Homo sapiens: one gene and its partner. The protein of the gene in region 1 interacts with the protein of each later gene in a biochemical or structural test. Each region holds a gene or a part of one and is shown on either strand. Other genes may lie near its edges.

Evidence for each region. Proteins that work in one complex are often made in the same cells at the same time.
Region 2: of the proteins of TEK (region 1) and PTPRK, one has a biochemical effect on the other in vitro, tested with the Homo sapiens proteins (one large-scale study listed by IntAct).

What each region holds. Positions count from the first base shown.
Region 1 is NC_000009.12:27,223,362-27,228,722, reverse strand, and holds part of TEK (angiopoietin-1 receptor isoform 1 precursor), read right to left. Parts: intron 518-5,361; coding exon 418-517; intron 1-417. UniProt on the Homo sapiens protein: Tyrosine-protein kinase that acts as a cell-surface receptor for ANGPT1, ANGPT2 and ANGPT4 and regulates angiogenesis, endothelial cell survival, proliferation, migration, adhesion and cell spreading, reorganization of the actin cytoskeleton, but also maintenance of vascular quiescence.
Region 2 is NC_000006.12:128,509,561-128,514,920, reverse strand, and holds part of PTPRK (receptor-type tyrosine-protein phosphatase kappa isoform b precursor), read left to right. Parts: intron 1-5,360. UniProt on the Homo sapiens protein: Regulation of processes involving cell contact and adhesion such as growth control, tumor invasion, and metastasis. Negative regulator of EGFR signaling pathway. Forms complexes with beta-catenin and gamma-catenin/plakoglobin.

The DNA of each region.
Region 1 (5,361 bases):
CCAACTTACTTCTAGAAATTTTTATGGAGTTCCTGACCCTCATTATAGTAACCTGCAGGTCAGGCTCTGTTGTCTACTTGCTGTGTGTCCTTGGTCAAGTCACCCACTTCTGAGTCTGTTTCTTCATCTATAAAATTAAAGGGTCAGGCTATATGACGAAAATTCCTTCCAACTCTAATAGGCTAATTCTGTATGTTATTCTAGTGTGTACGTGACTGTATCTTGTATAGAAATCTTATTTCCCCCCAAAATTGTAACTTCTTCAAAGTCGCGGGGGTGGAGGGACATCCTTTGTTTCTATAATACTTAGGGCCATGCCAAGAAGAACTTCTTCAATTATTTCAATGTTTTTTATGAACCACCCTGGGCACATCAGGTATTCCAATTAAAGATCTCCTGCCTGACTTTAATACTTACCTTTCGCTCCTCTAACATTCTGTTTAAGGACACCAATATCTGGGCAAATGATGGCCTCTCATAAGGCTTCTCCCGCCAGCATTGTCTCATTAGATCATACCTTCGAAAGCAAAGAATTAAAGGGTTAATTCTATAACTGTGCTTCAGTCCTAGGCACGGCAGGAAAAGAGAGGAGAGAATGAAGCCACCCAATGCATGGTTATGAAGCTTAACCAAAGTACAGCCCCTAGGAAGTTTCTATGAGGACTCCCACCTCCCTAAGCCAGTCTCATTTCAACTCCTCATAGATTTAGTTCCTACCCTCGGTACTGTTTCTGCAGGACCTTGGTCTCAGCTATTGCAATCATCTAGAAAGAACTGGGTATGTGTCTAGAGCAGCATTTGCCTTGGAATGCTGCATATTTCAAAATGTTAGTGTCTCTTAAAGGGCCCATGCTCAAACTTGTAAAATGCCACCCACATAAAGTCCCTTTAAGAGGCAGGACTTTTAGAAGCACTGTCATTAAAAACAAAAAAATGCCTGTTTAACCAGGTGCTATGGACTGAATGTTCATGCCACCCAAAAATCATGTGTTGAAACCATGTGATGGTGTTTGAAGGTAGGTCCTTTGGGAGGTGATCAGGTCATGAGGGTAGAACCCTCATGAATGGGATTCGTGCTCTTACACAAAAGGCCTCAAAGAGCTCTTTTGCCCCTAGTGCCACGTGAGGACACAGCAGAAAGATGGCCATCTATGAGCTAGGAAATGGCTCATGGCCACCAAATCTGCTAGCGCTTTGATCTTGGATTTCCCAGCCTTCAGAACTGTGAGAAATACATCTCTGTTGTTTATAAGCCACCATGTTTATGGTATGTTGTTACAGCAGCCGGAAATGACTAAGACAACAGGTTTAACACAAAGTTTCCAAAGTAATTGACCGCAGAACTCCTTTCCCCTTGCATCATGTATTTATATCTTGCACAACACGTGAAAACATAGTTTGGGAAACACTGACCTAAGACAGTGCTTACTCAGTTGTGCTCAGAACTACTCTGTTATTAAAATGCAGAATTCTGGAACCTGCCCTAAACTTACAGAATCAATGACTGACAGTGGGGACCAAGAGCCCACATGCTGAACAAATGACTCTGGGGAACCTTATGTGCATGGAAGGCTATCAACCATTGGCTTAGGGTGTCACAGATCCCAGAACAGCTTACACTTTAACATAAGTTTCTTAAAGACTAAAAAATCTTCTCACCCCTTATGAAGTGAATCTCAAAAGGTGGAATTTTAGGGACTGTCTAGTGATGGTCAACTATGTCCAGGTTTTTCCAGGATGGTATGTATGCTTCTTGCTCCAGTGAGATTAACACCCTCCTTCACTCTTAGAAGTAGCTCCATTTAGACAATAAATTATCTGCTCAACCTAGAGCCTTGCAGTCTTCAAACATGCCAGTTAGCTTCTACCACGGATAGTTCTGGGAATGCTGGTATCACTACAGTTCATTATTCTTACCCTTGGAATAAATCTTACTTTTGAAAGTAATCTTAGCAGAAGCAAGGTTCTAGGCAAGAAAATGTATCTTTATTTTTTTATTATTATACTTTCAGTTCTGGGATACATGTGGAGAACATGCAGGTTTGTTACATATGTATACAAGTGCCATGGTGGTTTGCTGCACCCATCAACCTGTCATCTACATTAGGTATTTCTCCTAATGCTATCCCTCCCCTAGCCCCCACCCCCCGATAGGCGTGTGATATTCCCCTCCCTGTGTCCATGTGTTCTCATCCTTAAACTCCAACTTATGAGTGAGAACATGCAATGTTTGGTCTTCTGTTCTTGTGCTAGTTTCCTGAGAATGTTGGTTTCCAGCTTCATCCATGTCCGTCCAAAGGACAAGAACTCATCCTTTCTTATGGCTGCATAGTATTCCATGGTGTATATGTGCCACGTTTTCTTTATCCAGTTTATCATTGATGGGCATTTGGGTTGGTTCCAAGTCTTTGCTATTGTGAACAGTGCTGCAATAAACATACGTGTGCATGTGTCTTTATAGTAGAATGATTTATAATCCTGTGGGTATATTCCCAGTAATGGGATGGCTGGGTCAAATGGTATTTCTAATTCTAGATCCCTGAGGAATCGCCACACTGACTTCCACAATGGTTGAGCTAATTTACACTCCCACCAACAGTGTAAAAGCATTCCTATTTCTCCACATCCTCTCCAGCATCTGTCATTTCCTGACTTTTTAATGATTGCTATTCTAACTGGTGTGAAATGGCATCTCATTGTGGTTTTGATATGCATTTCTCTAATGACCAGTGATGATGAGCTTTTTTCATGTTTGTTGTCTGCATAAATATCTTCTTTTGAGAAGTGTCTGTCCATATCCTTTGCCCACTTTTTGATGGGGTTGTTTTTTTCTTGTAAATTTGTTGAAGTGCTTTGTAGATTCTGGATATTAGCCCTTTGTCAGAAGGATAGATTGCAAAAATTTTCTCCCATTCTGTAGGTTGCCTGTTCACTCTGATGGTGGTTTCTTTTGCTGTGCAGAAGGTCTTTAGTTTAATTAGATCCCATTTGTCAATTTTGGCTTTTGTTGCCATCGCTTTTGGTGTTTTAGTCATGAAGTCTTTGCCCATGCCTATGTCCTGAATGGTATTGCCCAGGTTTTCTTCTAGGGTTTTTATGGTTTTAGATTTTACGTTTGTCTTTAATCCATCTCGAGTTAATTTTTTATAAGGTGTAAGGAAGGGGTCCAATTTCAGTTTTCTGCATATGGCTAGCCAGTTTTCCCAACGCCATTTATTAAATAGGGAATCCTTTCCCCATTGCTTGTTTTTGTCAGGTTTGTCAAAGATGAGATGGTTGTAGATGTGTGGTGTTATTCCTGAGGCCTCTGTCTTGTTCCTTTGGTCTATATATCTGTTTTAGTACCAGTACCATCCTGTTTTGGTTATTGTAGCCTTGTAGTATAGTTTGAAGTCAGGTAGCTTGATGCCTCCAGTTTTGTTCTTTTTGCTTAGGATTGTCTTGGCTATGCAGGCTCTTTTTTGGTTCCATATGAAATTTAAAGCAGTTTTATCTAATTCTGTGAAGAAAGTCAATGGTAGCTTGATGGGGATAACACTGGGCAGTGTGGCCATTTTCACAATATTGATTCTTCCTGTCCATGAGCATGGAATGTTTTTCCATTTGTTTGTGTCCTCTCTTATTTCCTTGAGCAGTGGTTTGTAGTTCTCCTTGAAGAGGTCCTTCACATCCCTTGTAAGTTGGATTCCTAGATATTTTATTCTCTTTGTAGCAGTTGTGAATGAGAGTTCACTCATGGTTTGGCTCTCTGTTTGTCTGCTATTGGTGTATAGGAATGCTTGTGATTTTTGCACACTGATTTTGTATCCTGAGACTTTGCTGAAGTTGCTTATCAGCTTAAAGAGATTTTGGGCTGAGACAATGGGGTTTTCTAGAAATACAATCATGTCATCTGCAGACAGAGACAGTTTGACTTCCTCTCTTCCTATTTGAATGCCCTTTCTTTCTTTCTCTTGCCTGACTGCCCTGGCCAGAACTTTCAATCCTACGTTGAACAGGAGGGGCGAGAGAGGGCATCCTTGTCTTATGCCGGTTTTCAAAGGGAATGCTTCCAGCTTTTGTCCATTCAGTGTGATACTGGCTGTGGGTTTGTCATAAACAGCTCTTAATATTTTGAGATACGTTCCATCAATACCTAGTTTACTGAGCGTGTTTAGCCTGAGGGGGTGTTGAATTTCCTTGAAGGCTTTTCTCCATCTATTGAGATACATGTGGTTTTTTTCATTGGTTCTGTTTAGATGATGGATTATGTTTATTGATTTGCATATGTTGAACCAGCCTTGCATCCCAAGGATGAAGCAGACTTGATCATGGTGGATAAGCTTTTTGATGTGCTGCTGGATTCTGTTTCCCAGTATTTTATTGAGAATTTTCGCATCAATGTTCATCAGGGATATTGGCCTGAAGTTTTCTTTTTTGTTGTGTCTCTGCCAGGTTTGGGTAACAGGATGATGCTGACCTCATAAAATGAGTTAGGAAAGATCCCTCTTTTTCTATTGTTTGGAATAGTTGCAGAAGGAATGGTACCAGCTCCTCTTTGTACCTGTGGTAGAATTCAGCTGTGGATCCGTCTGGTCCTGGACTTTTTTTGGTAGGTAAGCTATTAATTCTGCCTCAATTTCAGAACTTGTTACTGGTCTTCGACTGGGATTCGACTTCTTCCTGGTTTAAACATAGGAGGATGTATGTGTCCATGAATTTATCCATTTCTTCTAGATGTTCTAGTTTATTTGCGTAGAGGTGTTTATAGTATTCTCTGATGGTAGTTTGTATTTCTGTGGGATCAGTGGTGATATCCCCTTTATCATTTTTGTTGCATCTATTTGATTGTTCTCTCTCTTCTTCATTAGTCTGGCTAGCAGTCTATTTTGTTATCTTTTCAAAAAACTAGCTCCTGGATTCACTGATTTTTTTTGAAGGGTTTTTCATGTCCCTGTCTCCTTCAATGCTGCTCTGATCTTAGTTATTTCTTGCCTTCTGCTAGTTTTTGCATTTGTTTGCTGTTGCTTCTCTAGTTCTTTTAATTGTGATGTTAGGGTGTCAATTTTAGATCTTTCCTGCTTTCTCCTGTGGGCATTTAGAGCTATAAATTTCCCTCTACACACTGCTTTAAATGTGTCCCAGAGATTCTGGTATGTTGTGTCTTTGTTCTCACTGGTTTCAGAGAACATCTTTATTTCTGCCTTCATTTCGTTATTTACCCAGTAGTCATTCAGGAGCAGGTTGTTCAGTTTCCATGTAGTTGTGTGGTTTTCAGTGAGTTTCTTAATCCTGAGTTCTACTTTGATTGCACTGTGGTCTAAGAAACTGTTATGATTTCCGTTTTTTCGCATTTGCTTAGGAATGTTTTACTTCCAGTTA
Region 2 (5,360 bases), on another chromosome or scaffold:
TCTTGTGGGAATTCTTTTGATCTGTATTTAATATTTTAATAATGAAAACTAAGTGTATGTAATTTTAAAACTTAGTTTCGTGAGGTTTTTTTTAGATTGTTGAGGTTCTGGGAAAACACTGGGCCTGGGATCTAAGGATCACATTGATCCTCTCGTGGAACATTGCCATTTCCCCACTTAACTCTGGTTGAAATTTTTGGCATTCTCCTTCGTGTGTTGATAATCCATAAAAATTACAAGTGGCTTATTTTGTCACTTACAGTTGTTTTAGGATCAAATTAAGTTGTCCTAAATGGAATAATCCGTGTTTCCACTTGATATGATTATTGAGCTCTGATAATGAAAATGATGAACAGGGCAGTGCTGGCTGAATCCTCCAACAGGTGTCATTCTAGGAATTGTTTTAATAAGGGGAATTCAGAAACAAGGCAAAATAAAATAGTGCGTAGTGGAGTTATTGTTTGTATTTATTTTGTTGGGAAATGTGAAAGATGTAAGTATGTAGTCCTCTGTGTGAATACACACACACACACACACACACACACACACATCTTAACAATGCTAGGACTTAGTTGTAGAAACATTTAGGTTAGAAAGAAGGTAAGGGCATCTAGAGATGGTATCAAAACTCCATACTTAACATTTTTGGAAAGAGTAGTGAAAATAGATCACTACTTTATTTCATAGATGTAGAAACAAGTGGAAAATAAGCTGTATATAATCTATACTGTATACTATACTATACTGTTATACTTTTAAGGATAAAATAATAAATCTTTCTCCAGATTGGTATCTATTAATATAAACCCTTCCCAGTGCAGCCTGTTCCTTAACCAGCTGCTCATAGGCCGATTCTCCAAGCGCTGTTCAAGGCAGCAGCTGACCAGCCACAGAAATTCCCTTAATCCGTGTTGGATAGTGGAGGTGACCTAGCAGCTGCTTAAGTGACAGACTGGCAACAGTTCCTTGATGTGATTTTTCTTAGGTCATTCAGTAAATTCAAGAGTAGAGAGGAAGGCTTTCTAGGGTCCTCACTACCCACCCAGGGATTGATGACTGATTGCTTCATGGTCATTGGATTCCTCACTGCAAGGTGTCCTGGGATTTTGTGGTTCATGGACCAATATAATTAGCATCATCTGGAAATTTGTGATGATCTGTGATCATCAGAGTCACCCCAGATCTACTGAATCAGAATCTGCATTTTGATGAAATCCCCAGGTGATTTGATGGAACATTTAATTCTGGGAAACACTGCTCTAGGACAAAGAAAGCTCAGTTTAAAAAGATTGTCACATGAACTTTACCATAGAATTTCAAGAATATTGCAAAAGGATTAATGATAACCTGAAATACATTTCCTTGGATTTATATTTCTTTTTCCTTTCTTTTTCTTTTTCTTTATTTCTTTCTTTCTTTCTTTCTTTTTTTTTTTTTGGAGATGGAGTCTTGCCCTGTCACCCAAGCTGGAGTGCAGTGGCACGATCTCGGCTCACTGAAACTTCTGCCTCCTGGGTTCAAGAGATTCTCCTGCTTCAGGCTTCCAAGTAGCTGGGATTACAGGTGCGCCACCATGCCCAGCTAATTTTTGTATTTTTAGTCAAGATGGGGTTTTACCATGTTGCCCAGGCTGGTCACGAACTCCTGAGCTGAAGTGATATTCCTGTTTTAGCCTTCTAAAATGCTGGGATTACAGGTGTGAGCCACCATGCCCGGCCCCTGGAGTATATTTCTGATCAATATTTACTTGATTATTATTTAATATTCCAGACACATCAAAACAACAGTACTATACAAGCTTTTTAAAAGAATGCTCAGATGACTTTGAAAAAAAATATTTTCATAAGAGACTAAAAGTAAGACTAGTTTTGGTTATGAATATTTTGTATAAGAATATTTAAAGATAAACATACTCTTCAAGGAACCAAACATGCTATATGCAAATCATTTTTAGCATAATGTTATGTTGATACAGGAAATACTATTCCCTCTGACATTACTAGTAGCAGTCTCTTGCTTTATAATTCTCTTTTTCATCTAAGTGTAATTTAAGATCTTTGTAGTAAGGAGCTCATTTATAGGACAGTCAAATTTAATGAATGGGAGTTGGTAGGTAGAATGCATTAAATATAACTGGTGTTCTTTTTATTATCTTTTGTGCTCATATTTAAGAACAGAGATTCTTGTCAGTTTTCTCAAGAGAAAAATTATGATGTAATAGACAGTGTACACTATTCATGTCAAAACACAATTTTACTTGCATTTTATAGCTTGCTTTAGCATTCTTTTAGAAAATGAATTTTCCCAGAAGACCTAATTGCCTTCTTATTAATGAGCCTGTAAGTGTTTTTTGTTATCCATTTACTATTCTAAATGTGTCTACTTGTGCTAGCTGTTTCAACAGTGTTGTCTCTGATTAAATCACAACTGCTATATTTGTTTTTGCCATTCACTAGTGATTCAGAAAATATTGGCATAATGACGTGGTTATGGCAGAGACTAATAAAAAACAAGAAGTAAAAATTAATGTTCACCCATTACAGTTGGCTGTATCATGAGATCAGAAGCTGGAGTTTGGGATAATAGCAACGTTCTCTATATTTTTGATACTGTAAATAAAAGTCTGCATAACCTATATTGTCTTAAATATAAAATATATAATTTATTGAATTAATGAACTGTAAATCAGTGTATTTCCATATGTACTTAATTTAGACACTAATGTTTAAAGAAAGATTTAATAGGAGACTGATCACTGTTAGAGGAGAAGTAGTGGTGGAGAGACTCTGAGAGGGCACTTTCGTATATCTTCAAGAACTTCACAGTTACTTTTTCTAGTTTGACTCCAAATTCTGGAACTTGTCTTTTTTACTAGTACTGCTTTTATTCTTATGAGCAATAATTAGGTTCATTTATTTTCTTATATGTTGGAGAAGAGAGCTTTTCCTAAAGCAATTGCAAAAATAACAATATGAGCTGTAATTTACTGAGAGCCCATGACCTGCTAGGGCCTGTGATCAGTGTTTTACATAATTTTAAATCCTCACAATATCCTTTAAGATGAGGATCATCTCCATTTTACAAACTAAGGCCTCGAGGGGTTAAGTAATAACTTGTCCCAAGTGGCTATATGAGTCACTGGTAGAGTCAAGATTCGTTAATGAATGTACACAAATGTTTAAAGATTAGACATTTCTTTGGTTGCATCTTGGCAGAAAATGTAACCCAGACTGGTTGCAACAAAAGGTGAATTTATTTGTCTCTCCTAACTACAGTTCAGGTGGAGCTTGATTTAGAAGTTGACGTAATTCCACTGAGACATGATGTTTCTCTGCCTGCTTAGTTTAGTTCTAGGGTATTCCAGGAGCTTCTTAGGCTCCATATAGAGGCACGATGGCTGTGGCAGCTCCCACCGAACAAGATCCCAGGTTCAAGTCCCTTAAGGAAATGTGAATTATCTGCTGGTTGCACCTGATAAGGCTCTAAGGTTTACAGTGCTTGAATCCACTGATCTTGTTTCCAACCATTGAATCTAAGGCTCTGACTGAGGGGAAGTTAGTGTGCTGATTGGCTTGGCCCAGGGTTTGTAATCTTTCTAATGGGGAAGAAAGAAGATGGGAGATGATGGGGAAGAGACAGTAGGATCAGATTGTTCTCTGTTGTGGACCACTAGGTGATCTCTAAGTGGGAAAGCGTGGAAGAGAAAGAGAGGAAAGAGGCAATTTGTGTCTGGCAGGCTTGTATACATTTACAGATCACCTGTTTTTAATCTGAGAGTGTTTATTTATTGGCTTTCCCTTTAAGGACTACTTTAAAGCATGAATTTATATTATTTCCATTATTTTATTTTCCTTGTCTCAGTATTGAATTAGTCTAACATTAAAAATTTGTAGAATTTGGTGTTAAAAAAGATCTTAGAAATTAATGACCCCTTCATTTGACGTAAGTTGCCCAAAGTCATACAGGTAGGAAGAACTTGAGCTCAAATTAAAGATTTTAATGTATAGGTTAGTGTTCTTACTATATATGTATCATATATTAATGTATACTATATATATATCATTTTCCTTAACAGTAATCTATATAATTATTATTTAAGATTAAAAAATTTTTGGCTTGTATTCCAAATTTCTGAAACAATATTTCCAAATATAAACCTGACTTAGTGATTGGATTTGATTAGAATAGTAGTCTGCATATAAGGTGATAATATGTCTGTGAATGCAAGAGACTATCTTAGATAACTGCTTGGTTTTCAGATATCATGACAGAATTTATACATGTATGCATGTATAGGTGTTTGCATGTATGCATTTATTTATTTTTAATAGAAAGCAAAGGGTAAAGTAAGCTGTGGTAAATGATATTGACACAGACAAAACCTACTAACTCTACTATTTTTGAAAACCTCAAGAGATGATGGTGATTTTATTTTTAATTTTGATCCTCTAACCTCTGCTGCCTAAATTTATTATGTATATCTGAGCAACATGGGATATTAGGAAGAGTTGCTATAAGAAATATCTTGGGGTACTGAATAATGAATAAAATGTAGAGAAGTAGCAGCTGTTTGCCTAGCTACCTCCTCTCCTAATGAGAGATTTACCCAGGCTGTCTTAATCACATGTTAGTGCTAGTGGATTTGACTGAGGACCATGGCTGTGCCAGTTGAGGCCAGGGGATAGTCTCCAGGCACTTTAATGGTCCGTAATGGACCTTCAATGGCCAGGGCAGCTGGCCTGGCACATAGGGGTGTAGACAGTGGTTGAGGAGGAAGGTTTACTGACTTCATCATGCTTCCCTTTGTCACTGGAGGCTTGTTTTCGTACACTTTTGTCTATTATCATAAATAACTTATGATAATAACTTATGACTCTTTTTCTGTCTTATTTATGTCCTTATGTGATGACTGTCAGTCCTAAATGATGAAGTTTGTAATAATTTGCCCTAACCACCTGGTCAGTTGGAGCAGATTGCTATCTGGTGTTGACTCATTATGCCCCTTTATCTAAACCAACACTTAAATGCTCAGGAAATATATGAATGAGGTGAAGGGGCTGGCAGCAACCTACCTCAGAACCAATGCCTTTGGAGATCTATGCAGGAGGCTGTTTAATGCACAGAGCACTGGCCTTGCTACAGGAGGACTTATGTTCCAGTCTTAAGCTCTGTCACTTTCTGAAATTTGGGAGCAGTCCTTTCTGCTTGATCTTTCATTTCTTTATCACCAAAATGAGAATATTACAATGAAGAATGACTTTAATGTCTTGTCTAGTCTACTGAACCAGACACTTTTAAGGTGAAATGAATAATATATGTGAAAGTAGTTTTATATTTGTAAACTACCATAAAAATGTAAA